Regions from separate parts of the Homo sapiens genome. Here all the other regions are linked to region 1. Evidence: fine-mapped expression QTL. A gene starts in region 1. Each other region holds a variant in brackets. All regions are shown on one strand. Distances are from middle to middle. Region 1 holds the start of WASF1 (WASP family member 1). Region 2 overlaps METTL24 (methyltransferase like 24). Region 3 overlaps CDC40 (cell division cycle 40). Region 4 has its middle 22 kb from the start of METTL24. Region 5 has its middle 90 kb from the start of GPR6.

What was found. PIP is the estimated chance that this variant, and not a neighbour inherited with it, causes the effect. A credible set is the group of variants that fine-mapping cannot tell apart.
Region 2: its variant is the best candidate, but not a certain one, in a credible set for the expression of WASF1 in whole blood (TOPMed, PIP 0.73).
Region 3: its variant is the best candidate, but not a certain one, in a credible set for the expression of WASF1 in whole blood (INTERVAL, PIP 0.78).
Region 4: its variant is the best candidate, but not a certain one, in a credible set for the expression of WASF1 in whole blood (INTERVAL, PIP 0.84).
Region 5: its variant is the best candidate, but not a certain one, in a credible set for the expression of WASF1 in skeletal muscle (GTEx, PIP 0.70).

The regions. Positions count from the first base shown.
Region 1 is chr6:110,176,948-110,182,054 of GRCh38, forward strand. WASF1 (WASP family member 1) reads right to left here and starts at 2,723. Exons shown (of 11, transcript NM_003931.3): 1 at 2,492-2,723; 2 at 1,651-1,795. It overlaps CDC40 (cell division cycle 40), which reads left to right and starts at 3,480. Exons shown (of 15, transcript NM_015891.3): 1 at 3,480-3,686. The coding sequence starts at 3,498. RefSeq lists silencers at 2,083-2,402, 2,643-2,752.
Region 2 is chr6:110,252,261-110,257,367 of GRCh38, forward strand. The region is part of intron 4 of METTL24 (methyltransferase like 24); the gene reads right to left. Among named protein-coding and RNA genes, the nearest start is that of CDC40, 74 kb to the left of the region's middle. RefSeq lists a silencer at 3,173-3,373. The variant G/T (reference allele first, on the strand shown) is at 3,124.
Region 3 is chr6:110,210,403-110,215,509 of GRCh38, forward strand. CDC40 (cell division cycle 40) reads left to right here. Exons shown (of 15, transcript NM_015891.3): 6 at 305-401; 7 at 1,731-1,870; 8 at 2,684-2,758; 9 at 4,884-4,929. Among named protein-coding and RNA genes, the nearest start is that of CDC40, 33 kb to the left of the region's middle. The variant A/G (reference allele first, on the strand shown) is at 2,368.
Region 4 is chr6:110,377,314-110,382,420 of GRCh38, forward strand. No RefSeq gene overlaps it. Among named protein-coding and RNA genes, the nearest start is that of METTL24, 22 kb to the left of the region's middle. The variant A/C (reference allele first, on the strand shown) is at 2,766.
Region 5 is chr6:110,065,598-110,070,704 of GRCh38, forward strand. No RefSeq gene overlaps it. Among named protein-coding and RNA genes, the nearest start is that of GPR6, 90 kb to the left of the region's middle. The variant G/C (reference allele first, on the strand shown) is at 3,069.

The DNA.
Region 1 (5,107 bases):
TTTGATAGTAGTCCAATAAGGAAATCACAAGGTACTATGTACTGTGATAATGAAAATCCAACACTTGGAAAAGATATCTTAAGTTATTCCTAAAATAAAGCAAAATGTATAATTAAATATAGTCTTATACAATATTAAAACTGTCTCTGAATATATGAATATTTACAAACATGAGTAATAAAGTAACTCTATAGCATACCTTATAAATGATCACAACTATGTATTTTGGATTGTAACACCTGCAAATTTGTAACAAAAAGGGCCTTAATATTTTTCGAATATATTATTCTTCACTAACTTAATTCAATATTCTACTTATTATCAAGTCATAATTTTTGTTTACTATTAACTATTTTATCTATATGTTTAACTATATGTAGGTATTAACTGTAATAACCTTTATGTCTGCAATTATTTAAAACCCTTGATAGATGAGAAACATTTTTCAGTTCAGAGGCATACCTCTCCAAAGCAAAAATCAATGTTAATCAGCCATTCTAATATGCCATGGAAAATCCTGACATTTTTTCATTGTATTTTTCACAGAAATTTTTTAATCATTCATCAGCTAAAAGATTTAAATTTTCTTTAAAAGGACTACAAAAACACACCTTTCCTGAATTTATGCACACTACCTACTAAATATTATCTCCATTTACATATAAGGAAACCAAGGCACAAAGGTGTCCATTTTGTAAATTGCAAGGTCATTTCCTAACCAAGCAACTAATCCTACACCATCAACTTATATTATATGTACGCCACTTCCAAGTGCCATAAAACAATTACTATACCTTAAAACTGCCTCTGCAATGCTTATGTGATTCTCTTTTATCAAAAGGGTAAATGCAACAAGCTTAAACAAGGAAAGATGGAAAAGGAAAATTATAAAAATACAACACTTACTTTTTATAGTGAATCATTTATTTTTAAATAATGAGATGTAAACAGTTTTTAACATAAAAATCAAGTAACCAACAGTGGTTTCTTATATTTGCAAAAAAAAAAAAATTTCATCCTTCAGGTAGATCACGCAAAACTGAAGCCTACTCATACTTGTAGATTCAAGTTAGAAAAAAAAAAACTGGATTCTAAAACAAGTAATTAAATACATGATATTGCAAAGAAAAAAGTGAATAAAAAATAAAATCAGATAAATTAGGGAATGACTGATATGATGGTTAAAATCCTCATCTTAAATATTAAATCCTTCCATTCAATGGAAGGCAACGATTAGTAATGACATATTCTGCTACCGAAAAACAAATACAAAACTTTTCTTATTCAAAACTTCCGAAATTTTATATCAAATACTTCATTCAAATATTCAATATAAACAAAAATGTTTCCTAACAGAAACTTAGAGCATAAAGGATAAACTGTTCCTGAGAGTTCAAATTGAGACTGCATTTCTAATTATGATATAATGCTATGAACAATCAGAAAAATGAATGTTACCTACCATGCAAATTTAAATTTAAGAACATTAGACGGATTGAATAACCAATAAGTCAATTACATCAATTAGTGAACAGAAAAAAGACCTTAGCTAATCGTGAATCTAACACCAAAGAAAAAATTTAAGTCGAATCCACCGCACATCTTATTACATAGAAAAGGAAATGATTAGAGTAAGTCGTATTTAAGTACCTAGTCTAGCTGGGGATCAATTAATTAATCGGTTATAGGGCAGGACGTGAATGTTGAGATCGGATGTGCTTTCTTTCATCGTTATTCCAGTTCATCATCCGCAAGTGCAAGAGAAGGTGTCAGAGTACCGAAGCTAGGGGGCATGCTGTAGCAAGGGGAAAAGAAAAATGGGAAAGGTGCAATGGATGCTGCATAGTTGAATAATTATCTGGGTGGCACAATGGGCGAGTCCTGCCGACATGAGCGCTGAGTGAGCGGCTCCGTAACTCTGCCCAAGGCAGCCCCCATGAACAGGCACCAGAAGCGACAGCACCGCTTCGCCTCCCCTTCCAACGAAGAAAAGGATGCCCGCACTCGCTTTACCGTTATGTTTTCAGACACCGACTCGCGGAGCAAACACGCAAACGCACGAGCTCGCTTTACCGAGCCTCGCGCACGTAGGGCGAGCAGGGGATTCTCTGTCGCCCGGGGCTACCGCCTCCCCCGGAAAGAGGCACGGGGCGGACCGCGGGCGCGGGTGGGCAGGGAAGCCCGGGCGGTGGCACCTCAGGTGACACCCACAGTCTCTCCAGCGAGAGCAGCCCCGGGGCGGTCCCTGCAGCCAAGCCCCAGGCGCGCCCGCCGCCGTCTCCCTCGGCACCCAGCCCCGCTGGCGGGTGGGCGGTGGGCGCTCGGAAAACCCGCGGATGGGGGTGGGGGCCGGGGCGGGGAAGGCGCGCCCATCCATCCCCGTCACCTTTGCGGGCCACACACCACTCGGTCTGCTCCGGCCAGTAAGGAAGAGTTCCTCTCCCAACACCCCCTCCCCGAAAAAAGCAATTCCTCAGGGACTCGCGCTCACCGTGAAATCTTGGGGGCTCACGCCTTACCCCTTCTTCATGCTTCGGCAGCGGTCGCCGGTCCCCCTCGGCTCGCGGGACTCCGCCTAGAGCCCCCAGGAGGGTCGGGCTCTGGGGCGGAACCCGCTCAGGGCAGCGGCCCAGGCGCCAGGCCACAGGGAACGCCGCCTGGGGCGCCAACCCGCCGCCGGACCCACCGTGTGCTCGACGCGCGAGTGAACAACACCGCGAGCTGCCGTTCCCCCCGCCCCCTCCCCGCGCGAGACGCTCCACAACCGGGCGCAGGGACCCGCGCCAGAAGCAGGGGGGACCGCGAGACTCTTTCCGCCTATGGTCCCATCCTTGCCCCCCGCCCCAGGAGCTATTCCTGGCCAGTCAGAGGTCTCAAAACTTCAGATTCTCACTTTCCTCTTCAGCCTCCAGTGCCCAGGTGCAGCCGAGGTGGGAAATCCAGCCTCCGCCCACTCCCCCATTAGTGGGGCCGAAGCTCGCTCTTCCCCCCTTTCCTGAGGTTCTGTGGTATTGCCCAATCCTCAGTTTGGGGGAGGGGGACGAAGAGAACACTGCTTGGCTAGGGAATGAGGGAAGATGATAGCCAATTGAATGGAACATCCATTCGGGGGCGGGGTCAAAGGGGGACACGCCCCCGTTCCGCCCCCTCGTTGCAAACTACACTTCCCATTGTGCCCTCTCGCGCTTCCTGCCGCGCTGCACGCTGGGAGTGCAGGACCGCGAGGCCTCAAGGTATTTTGGAACTCATATTCTTTAGTCAACTAGGTCCTAAATGTTATAAACTATTATAATTCTCCCTTTTTCCCTAGATAAACTTTTTTAAGCTCTCAGCTCGACAGTAGTTATTCTAATAATAATTAGCTTATTGTTTCAAAATGTAAGACATTATTTCTTAGCAAAGAAAGTTAATGATGTGTTCCATTGCAATCTGTCAGGACCTGGGAGCCTCTTCTTCTTCCGCCCTGGCAGGGTCTCCGCAGAAGATTTGTTGCCGTCATGTCGGCTGCGATTGCAGCTCTGGCCGCTTCCTATGGTTCGGGTTCAGGGTCCGAATCGGACTCGGACAGTGAGAGCAGTCGGTGTCCGCTGCCAGCCGCCGACTCCCTCATGCACTTGACTAAATCGCCTTCATCAAAGCCGTCTCTAGCAGTGGCAGTGGACTCGGCTCCGGAGGTGGCAGTTAAGGTAAGCACTTTTGCTACTAATGCAGTGTGGGAATTGTTGGCTTCAGCTCCAGAACTGCCAGCCGCTTGTTAGGTACCGGGTTACCTCTTTCTCAGTGCTCAGAGATAAGTTGCTAACGTTTGAATTTCTTCTCCTTCCCACATGCATCCTCGGGAGAGGCAGAATTGGAAGTTCGGAATAGCCCTCCGATGCTCTCTGCCCTTGCCTCCCGCCATCAGAAAGCAAGTGGAAGGAGGGGATGAAATTTGAATTTGTGGATTAGGGACATAGCCTGGAAAGTGCAGGTGTAATCTCGGAACATAAGTGAAATTAGATCAGGACTTCCCAAACTAGAGTATTGTGTGAGCAGTGGCCTCGATTTGTCTTATTTTTGAAGAACTAGGTTCTAATCCTGGCACCACCACTTGTGTGAACTTGGACAAGTTATGCAGCCTCCTTTCTTTCCTCACCTGTACAGTGGAGATCATTTTCAAAACATCTGTCTACATGAAAAGATGAGTGTGAAAATTGAGTGAAATTACACAAATAAAGCATATAGCACAGAGCCAACTAGTGAGAGTGCAGTAAATGTTTTATGATTGTGTGTGTTAATACAGTGAGAAAAAGGCCTTGGATTTGAGAAACAGCTGCATGATCTCAATGGAGGAAGCTGATTAATAAGGCAAGAGTTTCCAGGCAGAGGTGACAGGCAAGCCTGAGAACGCAAAGAGCCTAGTGGGTTTGAAGAACTGAGGAAAAGCTGATGTGTCTGGAGCCTGATGAGAGCATCTACCAATTGGTAGTGTAGGCCCAGTAGAGCCCGAGGTAGGTGATCAGCTCAAGATGTGAAGAGGGGAGGCGGTGTCCAAAAATTCCTTTGTATCATGTCCCCAAGTCTAGTTTAATGACTTAAGAAGTGTTTTACAGGTTTTTAACAAGCTGTATGTGAATTTTACTTTTTAAAAATGGACATCTGTCATGAAAGAATGCTTAGAATCCTCCTAACTTCCTATCAAAACAAAACTTTCCAAACTTAAGCCCCTCCAGTAACCTCCTGAGTCTTCTCCTTTCACAGCTCAGCTTTTTGGAGCTCTCTTTTTGTCTTCGTCTCATTTTCTCCTCAACCCAATGCAGTCTGGCCCTATCCTCTTGGGAAACTACTGTCTGTGAGTGATGTCCCAGGCCTTCCAGTTGTCAAGTTCAGCCATCTGACTTAAATGTCTGCATCAAATGACACTGTTCATTAGTTCCTCTTTCTTGAAACTTTCTCTCCGTTTCGCTTCCATGGGGCTCTACTCAGCATTCTGTTCCAATTATTTTACTCTCCCTTTTCAATACTGGTGTTTCCCAGGACTCTGCTCTTAGTCCTCTTTGCATTCCACATATTCTCCCATACCTTCAACCTCAGGCTGTGCTGCTTCTAGCTCAAGGTGAACACCGTG
Region 2 (5,107 bases), 75 kb after region 1:
CTCCACCTTTGGAGGCTAGAAACCCAAGATCAACGTGTCAGCAGGTTTGGTTTCTCCTAAGTCCTCCCGACTTGGCTTGCAGATGGCTGCCTTGTCCCTGTGGCCTTTCTGCATGCATTCCTGGTGTCTCCACTTTTTCTTACAAGGACACTAGTCTTGTTGGATTAGGGTCCCACCCTTATGACCTCATTTAACCTTAATCACCTCCTTAAAGGCCCTATCTCTAAATACAGTCACACTGGGAGTTAGGGCTTCAATCTATGAATTTCTTCAACCCATAACAAATCTAAAACAGGTATTTTTGCTATGCTCTATTTAGAGGCAACCACTATCTCCATAAGCATTTTTACAATACATCCTTTTACTATTATGGCAGCCTGTAGTGTCTCCTCTATAGTTAATGGCTAACTCTGGTTTTAGCTAGTAAAAGTGTGAGCCATCAAATTAATTGGAGGTGAGTCACAGAGACTGTAGTAGGTATTATTTTCCAAAGATGTAACACCATTATCTCCCATCTAACATGATTTTCTGCATGTGGCCTTGACACCCCCACCACTGAGACATGGGATCAACCTATGTGGTCACACAGGGCCCCAAGCCTAGAAAGGCTTCATGCTTGATTTAACACTCTGCTGTCACTGTCTTAAAATTCTTCACTAGTTTTGAACAAGAGACCCCTCATTTTTATTTTGCACTAGGCCCCACAAATTATGTAGCCCATCCTCCAGAATTGTGATGAGCTGTGAATGACTGATTGACTAACACAGTCTGGTAGAAGTGATTCTAAGTGGCGTTCAAGCGTAGGCCGTAAAGGGTGATGCAGCTTCTACTTTGCTCAAGAGTATATTCATTCCTGAAAACTTTGGCCCTCAGGAAAGGTGTCTGACTGCCCCGAGGCGGTACTGCTATGAGAAAATCCAAACTAGCCTTTGCAGAGAGACCAATAAAGAGGTCCTGAGTCAATAGGAATAGAGAGAGAGAGATGTCTGGCCAACCCCAGCTGCTGCAAGCCTTCAACTGGCTTCAACTGCATGAGAGACCCTGAGCCAGAAGCACCCAGCAAAGCCCTTCCCAAAACTCTGCCCCACATAAACTACGAGAGAGCATCAAAGGATCAATTGTTGGGTTAAAAAGCTAAGCTTGGGGGCTAATTCATTATGCAGCAATAGATAACTAGAACAGAGACTAAGTGCTATTCATGAAAATCTTTTTTTAAAAAGGTAAAAGTTACTTGTATTGTGTCAAGTACTATATATTCTAAAGCTGTGAGTTCTAGAAATTAATATGCATTTAACCAAAAAATATTTTCTTATAAAAGCAATACATGGTCATTATTTAAAAATTAAAATCATAGATAAACAAAAAAAGAAGTAAAATACCTATAATCCAGAATTTTAAAACAGTTTACTTCTGAACTCCCAAACATTTTTCTTTGCTGTAAACACACACGTACACATGCACACACAAACACACAAGACAAATTCTAACACACGAGCATAACTGAAACACACATTTTCTACAAAATTGAAATTATCCTATGTTTTCAAATCTGCTTTTTAACATAACAGACTATGAATATATTTCCATGTCAATAAATTTTCCTCTAAAATTTTCTCTCAAACAGAGTCCCTCAGAGCTTTCAGAATCTGAAGGAGGTGACTGCAGGTCCCCAGGAGGGGTGAGGAGGATGGCAAGTGGGTGAAGGTCCAGACCTCAACTCAAGAGCAGCTCCCCTTTGATCTCCTTGACATATTTGGAATCCCTCACAAATTTGCATTTGGGAAAAGAGCTCTCCTGCTTAAAAAAAATATGAAAGCCTCTATCAATAATTTATTCTTAACAGCTTTTGTAATGATTTAATTTATTTAATCAGTCCTCCTTCTGGTGGCCATATAGATATTTTCCCAAATGGATGATGTTACAAACTGATGTTATCAACAAACTGGGCAACTAAGTTTGTGTGTGTGTTCTGTCATTTTGTAAAACAGAATTCTGAAAAGAAGTGTTGTAAATGAGTTCATATTTTAAGAATTGTTATTTATTTGGCCACATCATCTAGTTATTTATGAATATTTTTTAAAATTGAATTATCAACCAGGCGTGGTTCACGCCTATAATCCCAGCACTTTGGGAGGCTGAGGCAGGTGGATCATTTGAGGCCAGGAGTTCGAGACCAGCCTGGGCAACATGGCAAAATGCTGTCTCTACTAAAAATACAAAAATTATCTGGGCATGGTGGCATGCACCTGCAATCCCAGCTACTTGGGAGGCTGAGACAGGAAAATCACTTGAACCCAGAAGGCAGAGGCTGCAGTGAGCCGAGATCATGCCACTGCACTCCAGCCTGGGTAGCGGAGCAAGACTATCTCAAAAGAAATAAAATAAATACATAAAAATAAATAAATAAAAATTTGAATTATCATCAATTCCCTACCACCCCAACAAATCAACATTCATTCTCCATATTCATTACAGTTTGGGTCAATATTCAATCACAATTTTAAAATAATTACATCAATACAACTTCTTGCTTTTTAGTCTACTGGTGAAAAGTTGTTATTTAATGATAAAATATATCTAGGTTTTTATATATCAAGTTTACTTAAAGTGTACCTGCAAAACTAGAAGCTAAATGCATTAGAAAGAGGGTCTTGTTGTTGTAGAAAAATAGAATAAATTAATCTATTGTGAATGTGAACAAGAATAGTAAAAGTCTTTTTGAGAGCCTTAGACTTTAAACACCCTAAATCAGTTTCAATTATCACTGTCAACTGGCAGAAATGTAACGGTACAAGACTTCTGCTATCACTAGGGAAGAAAGAGATGAGGTTTGCCCTACAGATTATGAGAAATATGAAGGGTCACTCTAAGCTAATGTAGGACCAATTCTGAACTAATAATAAAATAAAATAATTTTATGTAGTAATTAGCTCACAAAAATGACTCCTGCAGGGAACAACACTCTACAAATGAATTAAAAAGGAAATGAGGAAAACATTTACAAGCAAAGGCTCTTTTTTTCTGGCCAGATATGGAGCTTGATGAAATAATCCAACCTGAGACTGCTGAGCAAGAATCTCCTGAGCTGGGTGAGGTGATAGAATACACAGCCTAGAAACCCAA[G/T]TCAGGGACAGATGATGGGTGAGCTGGTGACCAGCCAAGATGTCAGAGGTCAGCAGGGTGATTCCTATGCAACAGCAAAGAACTAAGCAGGAACCAAGCAGCACAAACGTAGGCAGGACTGAGGCGGTAGCAAGGGACCTGACCGAGGGCAGAGTCAGGCAGAAGGGCAATGGCAGAACCACGGACAGCTCCCGGCAGCTGCTTTTCTGTCTTCATTTCTACCCTACTTCCCTGGGCAGCTGAAAACAAATCTCTGATCTTAAGATCAGAACTCAATGCCTTAAAGTTACATTACCTGGTTAATTTATTTGCAAGTGTTCCAAAGTATTTTTGGAAGGAGATGGGACATAAAACTCAGACATCTATAAATGATTCCTAAATGAATAGATGTATAAACAAATAACCCAAGTAAACATCCAAATAAAATCTTCAGGAAGACATGTTCTTGGGGTTCAGTGGGAGAATCTTTGCCCTTAGATGGTGGGACTGGGTCAACCTCAGAGCATGCTGGAGCCAGTAATGTGACTTAGGCAAGAAAAGAAAGAAAAAAAAACAGCCCCAATGCAAAAAGCAAGCACTAATTTAGAGGGACACAAAACAAACGCATTTGGTATTTAGTTTTTGCTTGTGTTTTAAGCATATACTAAAATATAAGTGAGAAGAAACTAGGAATAAAAATAATGAAAGAATCAGCAGTGAGTGGGGTCAAGTGTTAGAAGCCAGAAATGAGAGGGGGTGAGAAAACATTAAGAAGTCTCGGGATGTGTGTGCACACACATGTGCATACACACACACACAACACACACACATGACTGAGGAATGCAGCTTTGAAAAATATATACAGGAAATTATTTTTACCACTGAGCCTAGCTTCACCTCAGACTTTAGTATCACCTCTAATTAAACAATCTCCAAGTCTCAACTTTCCCTCCCTGGTCATATAAGATATGAGTCCCAGTGCTGCAGTTAACCCCAGCACGACTCATGCTAGACCTGTCAGAGTCAACTTGATGTCCTCCATTTCTGAACCCCATGCAGAGTTCTAGCAAAGTAGGTAGCATGGTCACTCTTGTGTTGATCTTTTGATTTCCTTACCTGGGCTGTAAGTTCCTTTAGGGCAGGAATCTAACTCCTTGTTGGGTATCAAGTTCCTATCAGAGGTCCTGGCTCACAGCAGGTATGATATCCTATCAGATAACGAGTCCCACCTATTCTGCCTCCATAACACCCTCCCCCTGGCCTTCCATCCTCCACCTCTGTGATCACCTTGCTTCAGACCTCACTGATGGAAAGAGAGGAGACAAGAGAGGTCAAGGGTTGGGAGTTAGGAATAACAGCAGTTATCAATTCCATTCTCCCACAGGGCACAAATGTTGTGTTCGGGTCTTGATTTTCAACTCTTTATGCACACGACACTTAGCCAAATGTAATTCTTTGTCATTCCTCAAAATGCCACTAAAACCTTTCTGCCCATTTCTCTATTCATGTCACTTCCTTTTTGTGTGCCCGTTTCTCTATTCATGTCACTTCCTTCTTGTGGAACACCAGGAATTTCTGCTGGTCATCTCCCCCTCTGACAGCATACAGGGCACCACAACTGCCCTTCAAGTACAGGCTGCACTGCATCAAGAAATTTGCATTGTTGGATTTTTCTAAAACTCTTATCACCATGATCTAAAGCAGGGGCAATAATCTGAGAGAAGATGACTTAACATAAATTCTGACAGGACTTGGAAATAGATACAAATTGGTTTTATCTTATGGAATATTTCATTAGCATTAAACTACAAGGCTCCCATCTCAAATATGTTTTCTAGTTAAATGAGATCAACACTGAAATAAGGAAATGGATAATATCAATATTTAATTCTCCAAATGGCATTCAGTTTTTTATTTTGTTGTGGGTGTGTACAAGGAAGTGAACTGTTCCTAAACTGGAATGTTTAGGAAAGCCACTGAGCTGCTCTCCTGTACAGTAGAAGCT
Region 3 (5,107 bases), 33 kb after region 1:
AGCCAGGCGTGGTAGTGTGCACCGAGTAGTCCCAGCTACTCGGGAGGCTGAGGCAGGAGAATTGCTTGAACTAGGAAGAGGGAGGTTGCAGTGAGCAGAGATTCGCGCCACTGCACTCCAGCCTGGGCGACAGTGCGAGACTCATCTCAGAAAAAAAAAAAAAAAAAAAAAGTGTTGAGCTTGTTATCCTGGGAACATACTCGGACCAGATATGTAGAAGTCATTATAAAGAATTTATAACCAACTTTAGGTATAATGAGGTTCTAGAACATTCATTTTAAATTTCACTCCTTAATTTTCTTAGGAAGAGCAAAAAGAATTGGATGAAATCACAGCAAAGAGGCAGAAAAAAGGAAAACAGGAAGAAGAGAAACCTGGGGAGGAGAAGACAATCTTACATGGTAACATATTTTTTGTACATCTTCATTTTTATGAAAAACCTTCATATTTACTCTGTTCGCTGTTCATACAATATCAATTACCCTTACTATCAGCTGTAATAAAATCATTATGTTAAGTATAATTGTGTTGGACAATTTGTATCCCAAGGAAATTACAGCAGACTTCTGTATACTGATAAAGGAGAAAAAATAGCATGATTAATGATAGCCACAGATAATTTTTTTCCAAGTGTGAATGAATTTTATTAAATGGTAGATAAAAAGAAACTTGAATAGTCCACAATCTATTCTTTCGTAAGATAAAGTTGACTCTTTTGGTGTATTAATAGTGCCCCAGTCATTTTAAATGTTTTTAATGAAGCCAAATACTCAGGTATCCTCACAGTTCATAATCGTTATTCAGCTATATTCAGAATAAACTTGGATTTTCGTGTGAAAAGATGGAGCTTAAGGCTCTCATACTTATTTTGACTTGTAGAAGGAAATGCATATTCACCAAAACAAATCGTAAGTATTCTAGAATGTACCTGTTAATAATTAGTTATATTTAGGAAAATACATAGTGATTATCTAAAACTGTAAAGAATAGCTTAGCATTTACAGTGTTGCTTATTCTAATGTTATATTACATCAGATATTTAGGTTTGATGAAGCCATATTTGGTTCTTCAAGCTTCAGTTTTATCTCCAAGGAGTCTATTTAGTACTATGGTACTTAAAACTATAATAACAATAATATAAAAATAACATTTATTGAGTACTTACTCTGTGCCAGGCATGCTGCTAATTGCTGTATATATACTATGTCATTTAATTCTCACAGGTGACTTTATTGTAAAATTTGTGATGAAAGTGGGAAAAGATAAATGAAAAGGAACTGGAAGGGCATAAGAGAGGAAAGCAGGGGAAAAGGATAGTTGATATATTTTGTTTTGTTTTAACTTCCTTCTTAACCTGTTTTATTTCTGCTTCTTTACCAGTGACTAACAAGGCCCAAGTATTATCTTCCCTTGCTATAATTATGCCACAGTGAAGTCTTTATAGATCACTAAGATGTGTAAGTGATGAAAAGAAGTATAGATATTATCTAAAGGTCTATAATCTCTGGATATTTAGGAATTTCGAAATACTACCTCTAGTTGTAAATGATAGCAGTTATTTTAAGCACTTAAATCTTAGCTGACTCATGATCTTGACATCATTGGAGTGTTATTACCTAAACCTTAATATGGAATGATATACCTGTGAATAAAATGTTATTTTAAGAATGTTAGGTTTCATGACTATGGGTTGTATTTGTTTATTGATTTTCTTTGCCTTTTTGTTTCAGTTAAAGAAATGTATGACTATCAAGGCAGGTCCTATCTTCACATACCTCAGGATGTTGGTGTTAATCTACGGTCAACTATGCCACCTGAGAAGTGTTATCTTCCCAAAAAACAAATTCATGTGTGGTCTGGACACACAAAGGTAAGCAAGTTGGTTGTTTCTGTTTGCTGTAATGTTATAATAATGAAGCCAACGTAAAGTTTTAGCTGTTGATGTGGAACATTTAGTATTTCTGGTAAAGGTACAGGGAAGTCAAATTGAATGTAAGCCTGAGTTATGCTTTGGAGATGCCCACACATCCATCACAAGTGACTAATCAGTCTTCAAGGCCATCTGAATTGGCCATGACATAGCATTCATGATTTAGTGTCCTGTATCCTTGTAGCCAGGCCTTTCCCCACAAGCTCCTGCTACAGTCTTCTTCCTTTTGGGCACCAAATCAGTGAGTAATGGGCTGGTACTAGCACCAAGTCTCCTGCTTAGCTTCAGTAATTTTGCTTTAGCTCTGTGGTTATCACACTTCAGAGATTAGATGCGCCCTGGTTTATAAACTATGGTAATTTTTAAACTAATGCAGAGATAAGGGTCATGAAAAATTTTGATGTTGATATTCTTTGTCATCTGTACTATTCCAACTT[A/G]TAATTTCCAACTCTTTGCAAAGAGCAAAGGACTAAGTAAAAAAAGGAAGAGAAGTGGGGGTATTAGCAATTTGATTGACTCAGGATTCCATTGGGTGAGGAACTCAATATTAAAGGTTAAAAAAAAAATCTTCAAAAGCTTAGTGTCAATAAGGCCTGCTCTTGGAATGCTAATGAAAGTTATTCTGGGGTGAGATTTTTGGAATGAAGAAAAATAGCAAATTAGGCTGCTTAATATATACTGTCTTTTCTTGATGCTTCATTTGAGCTGATCTTTTGAATGCTTCTGGTTGATAACTGTAATACCTTTTTATAGGGCGTCAGTGCAGTCAGATTGTTTCCTCTCTCTGGCCATTTATTGCTGTCTTGTTCCATGGACTGTAAAATTAAGGTGAGTTTTCAGTAACAGAGTAGGAGTGCTGCAAAGCTAGTTCTTTGTTTAAATCTGTTTGATTAATTATAAATAAATTTGGGTTTGTTAGGCAATTAGAAGCTAATTATTTTCTCTTAGATCCTGTAAATGCAGCAATTTATGAACTACTTCCAAACATAAAATCAACTATGGCTCTGTGGTCCAATTGGCTAGGCCCCTTTTTTTGTTGTTGTTTTTGTTTTTTGTTTTTTTGTTTTTTTTTTTTGAGATGGAGTCTTGCTGTGTTGCCCAGGCTGGAGTGCAGTGGCACGACCTCAGCTCACTGCAAGCTTCGCCTCCCGGGTTCATGCCATTCTCCTGCCTCGGCCTCCCCAGTAGCTAGGACTACAGGCACCCATGGTGGCTAGGCCCCTTTTTAAGCTTAGACAACTGATGAGAATGTAATCCAATCATTTTGGCTTTGGACATATAAATATTTAATCACTAATCATTATAGAGATTTTGTATATGTAATAGTTTATTTGTTTCTCCAAACCTTATGAAATAGAGAGGACATAGGTTAGAAATCCCATTTTTAGAAAGTAGAAAATGTAATTCATCCTTTTTCTTCTAAATACTAGTAGACACCAAGTAACTGGACTGCTCCCAGCCCCTTCTTTTCACCTTTTCTAGTCTTGGGAAGCTCCATCTTTAGCTTCTGTTCAGTCATAGAATGTGTGGTAGAAAAAACTCCGTTGCCAATGCATCTCAACCTGAATATGCAGGATGTCTTGAAAAAAATTTTGAATCTGAAAGGATAGTTCTTACCAGTTTTGTGTCTTCTCTTTGTCCGGACCATGATGATGGTTCAATAAATACCAACCCTATAGTGCTCTTGGGGCTTGAAAAGTTGAGTCATTAAAATTTTATCATTTGTAAATAATTCATGGATATTAACAATAAAAAAGGCCACTTTTTTTTATAAGAGCAACCATTTAGGCATTTGTCTCTAATAGCTTAAAATGACAGGCCAACATTTTGGAGTAAAAACCCCCATTTTACTTAACTTTTACTTTTACTTTGTACAAACCATGTTAATTGAGATGTTGGTCTTTTCTTTGACCAACCAAAAAAGCATAGAATTCAATTAGTTCACTTCTATAAACATTCTATTATGTGCAGGGGACTGAAAGTAAAAGCTTATAAAGGCACTGTCCCTCCCCTTAGGATGATCATTTTATTATGATATAAATGATTATTATAGAGGCAAGCACAAGATATGCTGGTTTCAAAGAGGAAGCATACCTTAGTAAGTTGGTTAACTAAGTAAAGGATGAGGAAACAGGAGTAGAGTATGCTTGAAAAGAGAATGGATCAGCATGGTGTGTGCTGAAAATAACAGTTTTGTGCTTGCTGGAGCATAACATCTAAGAGACAAGGAATGATTGCAGTCATGAGCAAGAAACCAGGTCTCAGAGGTCGTTTCCTAGTATGCTACAGTAACTGAGACTGTGTCCTATTGGCACCAGTGGCAAGGAAATGCTTTCTATTTTAGAGTACTAGCAACATTGTTGAGAATTGGATTCAAGGCAGTCAAGAATAAAGCTAGCCTTGAAGCTATTGTATTAATCCACCTTAGATATGCTGAGAATTATGAGCCTTTTATTTTAGTCTAGATCATCATTTTCTTACAGCTTCTGTAATACTTGTTATTCAGAAAAGTAAACAGAAAAGGCTTTCAGTATCAAAATGTTATATACATGGCAGTTTTAATAACAATTCCTTTAAACGTCATTTGTAGTGCTACAAAAGTAGAAACTTTTCATCCTAGAAAATGTATGAAATAGAAAAGAACAATATGAAAATGAAAACTTACCTGAATTAACTCCATCTATAGTTAAGTCTCTTTTTTGATGTAAATATCTTTAAAACTCTTTAGTTTTGAGCGTGTGTGACTCTGTGTGTGTGTGTTCCAAATAATATAACACAAACTGGCAGCACCAAGCTATATTTAATGATATTCAGTGTTTAATATTTAATGATTGAAGCTGTGCGTTTACACACACAGATGTGCACACACATAACCAGCATAGGGCTGTTGTTATTAATTGAAGGACCTTTATTAAATGTAATATTTCCATGTGTTGTTTTTTTTCTCCCCCAGCTATGGGAGGTTTATGGAGAACGGCGCTGTCTGAGAACATTTATTGGTAATGCTTCTTTTCTCTCCAACATAAATCTGGGAAGAATTTTTAAAGTAAGATAACATCATTGACAATAACTTTACTACACCGATAGGAAGTAAACTCTTCATAGATTTCAGCTGAATCTGGAAGGAGGAGTCAGTGTCCCCAGTTAGACAAAGAAAGAGAACTAGGAAGCAAGAGC
Region 4 (5,107 bases), 200 kb after region 1:
AGTTCATTAAGCCTCTTTCTTTTGTAAATTGCCCAGTCTCGAGTTATGTCTTTATCAGCAGCGTGAAAACAGACTAATACGGTGCCATGACTGATTCAGTGTCCTGGGCATGGTTGATGATGGGCATCCCTTGCACTGCCAGGCTTGGACATCACTGGCCAAGGGACTGAGGTGGGCATCCAGGTCAGGGGTCTTTGGGACCTGGACTGGAGGGCTGCAACGCCATCCATCTTTTGGCCTAGTCCAGGTTTTCTGTCCTCCTCAGAGGCTCAGGTGGCTGAGGTTCTAGCATGCCCATGCCCAGGCCCACGAGTATGCTCTTGGCATGGCCTAAGGCCTGGTTCTCAGCCCTAGCTGTTCATCAGGAAGCTCCCAGAGAAGCTGTCAAACATAGACATTCCTGGTTCCCACCCTGTGAGATTTTGATCTGAGAGGTCTGGAATAGAGCTTAAGCACCTGTATATGTTTAACCCCCCAGGTGATTCTAATATATAACCAGGACTGGAAATCTAAATCTGTGGTTCTCGATCCTGGATGCACATTAAAATCACCAAGGTGGGGGTGGGAGCAGATTTTTTAAAAATACTAATACTTGCCGTCTGTATCATAAAGATTCTAACTCTCTTGGTCTGGCAGTGGGCCCAGGTATGTTTTTTAGTTTGTTCAGTTGGTTGGTTTTGGGTTGGTTTTAGCTGCCCAGGTGATTCTAATGCACAGTCAGGATTGAAGACCCCTGGTCCAGAGGATTTTGTTCAGGGAAGTTAACTCGTATTTGAGTGAGTGCCAGGAAAAGGCAAGCCCTGGGGAAGATCCGACATACTGAAGGGCTATTGGTGGGCCAGGTAGACAGCAGTGCGCTGGGGCAGTGTGGGAAGGGCCAGGCGGAGACAAGCCAACAGCCTCAACAGAAGGCTTTCTGGCCAAAGCAATTTGTTGACACAGGTCTGACTTTTTAAAATCTATTATCTTGGGGGCCAAGATGGCTAACTAGAAGCAGCAGTGCTGAGAGGCTCCCATCCAAAATAAGCCATAATAAGTGTATGAATTCTTCACCAGCAACCAAGGTATCCAGGTTCTGTCATCAAAATTGACTAGAAGGCTGGCGTGACCCACAGAGAGAAAGAAGAGCAGTGTGGTGGGGCAGCCCACCTGAGAGCCACACAGGGAAGGGGAACCCTTGGGCCCCCTCACTCACCGCCTCCCTCCTCCAGCCGAGGGAAGCAGTGAGTGAGCACTCTACCCAGCAGGGGAAACTGTGCTTTTTCCACAGAACTGTGCAACTCACGGATCGGAAGTTCTCACTGATGAACCCACGCTACCGGGCCTAGCATCCTAACCGTGGAACATGCAGATTTTTGAGGCCTCTCAGCTGGAATCTGCTTAAGCCTACCAAACTCCCTGAGGGAGGAGTGACCAGCAGGGGCTGCGGCTGCCTGCTGTCTAAGCCCTTTGAGCTCTTTGGGGGCGGGGCAGCAGCCAGCACTGGGACTCACAACTGCCTAACACGCTAAGCTCCTGGGCAGGGGAATAGCGGCACCCATCTCTATACCTCCAGGCTGCACTTTTCCCCTGCTGGAGCCAGGGAGGCTGAGTGGTTTGGTCCCAAGAATTATCCCCACAGCCCAACACACCACCTGTGGCAGTCTGCGGCCAGAGTGCCTCTTCAGGTCTAACCCATCTTTCCTAATTGGGCGGGGCTACCCTGCAGGATCTCCAATAATGCCAGCCAGAGGCTTAGGGACAGAATTTGGATGTCCCTGGGCCTGAGCCCCTAGAGGGAGAAGTGGCCCCAGTCTCTGCAGACCAGCAGACTTAGCCTTTCCGGAGTCCTGGTAGTTCTGAGGAATCTGGGAAGCCCAGATGAGTGGGTTTCCCTGAAGTGAAGCCCACCTTCTCCACCAAGGGACAAAGTGCTTCATTAAATGGGTCCTGCTCCCTGTGCTGCCCAACTGGGTGAGACCCTCTAACAGGGGTTGTCAGATACCCTATACAGGAGTGATACTACTGGCATCAGGTTGGTGCCCCTCAAGGTCAGAGGTCCCAGAAGAAGGAGCAGGCACCCATCTTTGCTACTCTCCAGCCTCCTTGAGTGACGTCTCCAGGCATGGGAGCGAATCAGATGAATAGGGCCTGAAGTGAACCCCCAGCAACCTGCAGCAGCCCTACAGAAGAGGGGCCTGACTATTGAAAAAAAAACAAGCCAGCAGAAAGCCACAACAACAACAACAACAAAAGGCCCCCACAAAAACCCCATCCAAGGGTCAGTAGCCTCAAAGACTGAAACTAGACAAACTCAGAATAATGAGAAAGAATCAGTGAGAAAATGCTGAAAACCCAAAAGGCCAGAGTGCCCCTTCTCCTCCAAATGATTGCAATGTCTCTCCATCAGGGGCGCAGAACTAGATGGAGGATCAGATGGATGAATTGACAGAAGCAGGCTTCAGAAGATGAGTAATAAAAAACTACGCTGAGCTAAAGGAGCATGTTCTAACCCAACGCAAAGAAGCTAAGAACCTTGATAAAAGATTAGAGGAATTGCTAACTAGAATAACCAGTTTAGAGAGGAACATAAATGACCTGATGGAGCTGAAAACCGCAGCACGAGAACTTCGTTTAGCATACACAAGTATCAACAGCTGAATTGACCAAGTAGAAGAAAAGATATCAAAGTTTGAAGACCACCTTACTGAAATAAGACATGTAGACAAGGATAGAGAAAAAAGAATGAAAAGGAATGAACAAAGCCTCCAAGAAATATGGGACTT[A/C]GTAAAAAGACTGAACTTACACTTGATTGGAGTACCAGAAAGAGATAGGGAGAATGGAAACAAGCTGGAAAACACACTTCAGGATATTATCCAGGAGAACTTCCCCAACCTAACAAGAGAGGCCAACATGCAAATTCAGGAAATACAGAGAACACCATTAAGATGCTCTATGAGAAGATCAATCCTGAGAAACATAATCATGAGATTCTCCGGGGTCAAAATGAAGGAAAAACTGTTAAGGGCAGCCAGAGAGAAAGGCCAGGTCACATACAAAGGGAAGCCCATCAGACTAACAGCAGACCTCTCAGTAGAAACTCTATGAGCCAGAAGAGATTGGGGGCCAATATTCAACATTCTTAAGGAAAATAATTTTCATCTCAGAATTTCATATCCAGCCAAACTAAGCTTCATAAGCGAAGGAGAAATAAAATTCTTTACAGACAAGCAAATGCTGAGGGATTTTGTTACCACCAGGCCTGCCCTGCAAGAGCTCCTGAAAGAAGCACTAAATATGGAAAGGAAAAACCATTACCAGCCACTGCAAAAACCACACCAAAATATAAAGACCAAAGACACTACAAAGAAACTGCATCAACTAGTGTGCAAAATAACCAAATAGCATCATGATGACAGGATCAAATTCACACATAACAATACTAACCTTAAATGTAAATGGGCTAAATGCCCCAATTAAAAGACACAGACTGGCAAATTGAATAAGGAGTCAAGACCCATCAGTGTGCTATATTCAGGACACCTATCTTACATGCAAAGACACACACATGCTCAAAATAAGGGGATAGAGGAAAATTTACCAAGCAAATGGAAAGCAAAAAAAAAAGCAGGGGTTGCAATCCTAGCTTCTAACAAAACAGACTTTAAGCCAACAAAGATCAAAAGAGACGAAGAAGGGCACTACAAAATGGTAAAGAGAACAATTCAACAAGAAGAGCTAACTATTCCGAATATATATGCACCCGTTACAGGAGCACCCAGTTTCATAAAACAAGTTCTTAGAAACCTACAAAGAGACTTAGACTCCCACACAATAATAGTGGGAGACTTTAACACCCTACTGTCAATATTAGACAGATCAACCAGACAGAAAATTAACAAGGATATTTAGGACTTGAACTCAGCTCTGGGTCAAGTGGACCTAGTAGACGTCTACAGAACTCTCTACCACAAATCAACAGAATATACATTCTTCTCAGTGCCACATGGCACTTATTCTAAAATTGACCACATAATTGGAAGTAAAACACTCCTCAGCAAATGCAAAAGAACAGAAATAATAACAAACAGTCTCTCAGACCATGGTGCAATCAAATTAGAACTCAGGATTCAGAAACTCACTCAAAACCACACAATTTCATGGAAATTGAACAACCTGCTCCTGAATGACTCCTGGGTGAATAATGAAATTAAGGAAAAAATCAAGAAGTTCTCTGAAACCAATCAGAACAAAGAGACAACGTACCAGAATCTCTGGGACACAGCTAAAGCAGTGTTAAGAGGGAAATTTATAGCACTAAATGCCCACATCAGAAAGCTAGAAAGGTCTGAAATCAATACACTAACATCACAATTAAGAGAGCTAGAGAGGCAAGAGCAAACTAAATGAAAACCTAGCAGAAGGCAAGAAATAACTAAGATCAGAGATTAACTGAAGGAGATAGCGACATGAAAAAACCCTAAAAAAAAAAGTCAACAAATCCAGGAGCTGGTTTTTTGAAAAAACTCCGGGGACTGTTGTGGGGTGGGGGGAGGGGGGAGGGATAGCATTAGGAGATATACCTAATGCTAAATAACGAGTTAATGGGTGCAGCACACCAACATGGCACATGTATACATATGTAACAAACCTGCACATTGTGCACACGTACCCTAAAACTTAAAGTATAATAATAAATAAATAAATAAAAGAAATTCACAACCAAAAAAAAAAATTAACAAAATAGGCCACTAGCTAGACTAATAAAGAAGAGAGAGAGAAGAATCAAATAGACACAATAAAAAATGATAAAGGGGATATCACCACTAACCCCACAGAAATACAATCAGAGAATACTATAAACACCTCTATGCAAATGAACTAGAAAATCTAGACGAAATAGATAAATTTCTGCACGCATACACCCTACCAAGACTAAACCAGGAAGAAGTCAAATCCCTGAATAGACCAATAACAAGCTCTGAAATTGAGGCAGTAATTAATAGCCTACCAACCCAAAAAAGCCCAGGATCAGATGGATTCACAGCTGAATTTTACTAGAAATACAAAGAGGAGCTGATACCATTCATCCTGAAACTATTCCAAACAACTGAAAGGGAAGGACTCC
Region 5 (5,107 bases), 110 kb before region 1:
CAGAGGCAGTTGGATGTCTGGGAATCATTTCATCTATAATCAAATTCTATTTTATTTTTTTCTGCTAGAGATACAAAATAGATAATTACTGAGAAAAAAAACTGGGGAAACTTTCCACACACATAATTTGTGTCTAGAAACATAGAAACAAACATTTCTTTAGAATGTACAAAATGATTCCACATACAATCTGTTATGGTAGAAAGCCTTCTAAAATGGACCTGGTGCAAGAAATCCTAGTTGAAGTCCTAGTGACAGGAGCTCTGGACTAGAAACCTCATTTATGGTAGAGGTGGCTACCAAAGCCCTCGGCATGGTGAGTTCACACAGGCAGCAATTACAGAATGGGAGGAGACAAGAACGGGATGGTGGATGGGAGGAACTCCAGTAGTTAATGAGCCTGCCAAAGAGGCTAAGAGGAGCTTGTAGAGAATTAGAGACAAGGCAGGAGAACGTCAGGTCTCTGAAGTTAATGGGAAAGAAGTGTTTAATGAAGAAGAGGACTTTGCTTATGCCCATGATAGACTAACAGGGACCAGATTTGCCTGCCTTCTTTAAACAGCTACTAAAACAGACAAGGTATATCCAACGATGATTCTCAGACATTCAACCATGGTTTTCAGGCAGCACAGGACAGTGATCCCTGAGAGAAGAGAAATAAATGAGGTGTGTCTCCTGCAATTGACACAGCCAGCTGTCTGAGAGTTTCCAGGTGCCAGCCAGGGAGGGAGGAGCAACAGAGCTTGATGGTCTTCCTGGGTCAAGGAGAAAGAAGTGAGAGTTTGGGGAGACCAATTTATTCTCTCCTCTGTCTTCTTCCAGAGAGCTTTGAAACCTGTGATCACACTGAGCTGTCCCTGGGGCCTGGAACTAGCTGCAAACAGCCTCATGAGTGGGTGAAAACATGGCAGGCAGCCTAGGTGGGAGAAGTGATAGAGGGGCCCATTCTGCCTGGAGAGTGCAGGTCCATGGGGGAAAGGAGGGTCAGCCTTCCAGGTGTGGAAGGACTGGGTACAGGGGTGATGCAGGCTGAGTGGAATCTCAGGGTCTTCAGGACTGCCAGGGTCCTAGCCAGGGCAGTCACCTACTTCTCCGCCGACTGGTGGCTGCTCTTACTCAAGTTTGTCTTTGGAGAAACTTGTCTGGAGTTCAACACACCTGTTTGTTAACTTCATGGTAAGAAACAGCTGAAAGAAGCCCACCCACCAGGCCTGGAAGTCCAGCTCTGTGGGAGAGACATGGCTACCATTTTGTCCAACATTTGTTATCCAAATCACTGTGTCTTGTTTTAGTCTATGCAGTCCCCAAGCTGACCCCATCCTTGCATACCTCAGAGGCGGTGACAGGCCAAAGGCCTCCTTTCTTTGGTGTCAGTCATTAGTTAGGACCAACATCCTTATACAGAGGCAGTGATCCCCAAATCAATCTGCCCAAGAGCCTGAGGTGTAGGTGCCAAAGACCTAGTGCTGCCAGCAGCAGCCCACAGAGCCACGAAGTCACACAGACCGGAGGGAAAAGCAAAGCCGAATCTCCACCCAGAAAGTCAGCTCTAAGAGTGGGCCAGGGGCTGTTCACTCCCAGCCATTCTGGAGCCTGGCCAGGTGAGGCAGCTCCGGCAGGCCAAGAGAGGATGGGGCTGAGGAAGTGATGGGAAGTGAGACCCAGGACCATGCCAAGCTCTGCCACCATGCCTACATTGTGATGCTGAACTAACTACAATTCTGGTTAGTGATGTGTGTGTGTTTCCTCGAGAGCAGCTCAATTCAGTGGGGAGAAAGGCTCTATGATGTTCACATAATGTTCATCACCCACTATATTAGTGTCTGAATTTCTACCCAGAACACTTGTGCCTGTCAGACAAGACAGCAGTTCAATTAGCCTCCAAATGTCACAATTTCTAGTAATTACAGTCATGCACAAACAATAGAAAAAGCACAACAATGGGTCTGATTTGAAACATTAACTTTCAAAAATGCTCACAAATGAATGATTTCATCTATAATCAACTTCTATTTTATTTTTTTCTCCTAGAGATAGAAAATAGATAATTACTGAGAAAAGAATTGGGGAAACTTTCCACACACATAATTTGTGTCTGGAAACATAGAAACAAACATTCTTTGGAATGTACAAAATGATTCCACATACAATCTGTTATCCTTGTAGAAAACCTTCTAAAATGGATTTGGTGCAAGAAATCTGAGTGGAAAAACAGCTGTGGTTTCAGGCATGTCAAACCTGAAATATGCATGTATGCATGTGTGGGTGTATGTGTATGCTCCCCATAATAGGACCCTGTTCTCCTCACTCTCTATGTAACCCACGCATAAGTGGGCATGAAATGATTAAATAACAAAACCCCAAGCTGCGGTACCCAAGGAGAATATCTGATAGAGCAACATTAAAAAGTAGCATAGAGTCAGCGACTGCTATGCAGTGGGAAGACTTGGTAACTATAGCAACTTGCTTTAGAAGTTGTTCTTTCCCTGCCAAAAATCAGGTAAGCCTTGTCAGCACTCCCACTGACACACCACAGGGAGACAGAAGCTATTCAAGAGAGGCAGCAGGCCAGCCACACAAAGGGCACATGAAGGAAAGTAAACCTTCTTAAGTTTCTGCACTACATGGGTCTATGGGGGAGCAAATTATGAACAAGAACGAGTAGTACAACTGAAGAAGGCTGAACATAGAGGATTTTTGAACTCTTGAAACAGAATGACAATTATGTGTAATGACTACATCAGCCCAGTTGTGACCATTCTAATATAAACTGGCATGGAGCACAGGAAAAGATCAGCACACAATCAGGAACCAGGATGAGTTATTAATAGGACCCAGACAGGGTACGGGTATTTCCTTCAGGCTCCTAGAAAAGGCTTCACCAAGTCCACAGAAAGGAGGACCGGAGTTAACACTAGTTACCCACCATATATAGTTAGATTTTGTAGTTGGCAGCAATTTTTTTTTTAAGTTTAACTTAGTAAACTGCATAGTTGATCCCATAGAAGAATCTCAGTTCTTCTCATCGAATGCTTTATATTAAAAATCCTGGAGCAAATACAATTAGA[G/C]GAACGTTGCTATGCCAGGTGAACCTCAGTGACCTTCGGCAATCCAGTCTCTGAAGTTGGCAGAAGGTAGGCATCTCTCACACTGAATTGGTGTACTGTATTGGACACGGCCTGAGGCTCAGCTCATGCATCTTGCTGCAGCACTCAGTGCAGCTGATTACTGCCTCCTCGTCAAACATTCCCTCCGTGCGACTTCAGGAGAACTCACTCTCTTGTTTTCCTCCGACCCCACCAAGGCTTTTGCTCCCTTCTGTTTGTAGGATCTTCCTTCTATTGCCCAACTCTAGATGACCTAAGTCTTTGAAGTCTTCCTCTTCCATTTCCTGCATGGACTCTTTTAATGTCATGGTTCTCACTACCTCTGCATACTGATGACTCCTATTAATATCTGTAGCTCTGGACGGGTGCGGTGGCTCATGCCTGTAATCCCAGCACTTTGAGAGGCCGAAGTGGGTGGATCACTTGAGGTCAGGAGTTCGAGACCAGCCGACCAACATGGTGAAACCCTGTCTCTACTGAAAAAATACAAAATTAGCCGGGTATGGTGGCACACACTTGAAATCCCAGATATTTCAGGGGCTGAGGCAGGAGAATCAATTGAACCCAGGAAGCAGAGGTTGTAGTGAACTGAGATTGCACCACTGTACTCCATATTGGGCAACAAGAGGGAAACTCTGTCTCAAAAAAAAAAAACCAAAAAAATCTGCAGCTCTTGGACTCAAGACTGCTATAGCTGACCTCCCTCTCATTATGTCCGCATGGATGTCTAACAGGCGTCACAAACACAGCATGCCCCAAACTGTCTTCTCTTAGTAGACAGGTGGTTCCACCATGAAAGTACTTCCCAAATCGGAGCCCTCCAACTCTGCTCCTCAGCCCCTGTCTGCCCCTAGCCAACACTGGATTGCTCCTGTGGCCTCCTGAGTTCCCTGCCTTTGCCCTTGCCCTTTTCTATAGTCTATTCTCCATATCACAGCCAGGTTCTTTTAAAAATACAAATCAGATCCCATCACTACCTTGTTCAAAAACTTCCCTTGTTTTTGTGTCACAGGAGGAATAAAAACCAGAGTTCTTGCCGCAGCCACTGAGCATGAGCAGGTGTGCTTCCTCTTCAATTCCCTACCCTCTCCTCTTGGCTCACTCTGCTCCTGATGTACGGGCCTTCTCTGCTGCTTCAAACATGACTGCAGAGCCTCACACTTGCTGTTATCTCTGCTTGGAATACCTGGAATCACTCATTCCCTTTATCCCAGTTTCTGTTTTCTCCTTAGAGAGAACCACTCTGCCTATTTTATTTAACAACCCCCACTCCTACATTCCATTCTATTCCTTTATCCTGTTTTATTTTTCTTTGCCACACTAGTCACTGCCTATATTATCATAGGTAATTTGTCTCCCTCAGTAGAATGTGAGGTTTATAAAAACAGGGACTTTTTGTTGTTGTTCACTGCTTCCCCCTAGGACACATGAATGGTGCCTGGCACATGGTGGGTGATCAGCAAATATCTGTTAATGAATGAATAAACACACACATAAAGAAAACAACTGTATTTTTGTGTAACACATTGGCTGTGACATATAATGGTGCAGCAGTTTTTAAACTTCTTTTGATTTCGTTGCTAAATGGTCTGGTTTCTTTAACAAATCAGGTGATAAAATAAATCATACTGCCAGAGAATTAACATTTGGGGTTAAACATGGCTATTCCATTCCTTTTCTATAAAAGAGATTTCAGAAATGTAGCTAATAGAGGAGTCTGAATAGAATTAGAAGTAGGATTTTAGACCTGGAAGAGTCTTCTCCCTATATCCTCCTCCCCAAGAGCAAATATAAACTGTGCCTTCCAAACTGTGTGAGTTAGGAGGAACCTGTCCTAAGCTCATTCACAAAGGCATCCTAATACAGGTGCTTTTCTCAGAGGACTTCTCTTTCTAGTTGCTAAAAATAAATAAATAAAATTCCCTCTATATCATTACAGAATTTTAAATATTAACTACCATGTACTGAGCATTAACAATATGCCACCTGTTTGATATTCA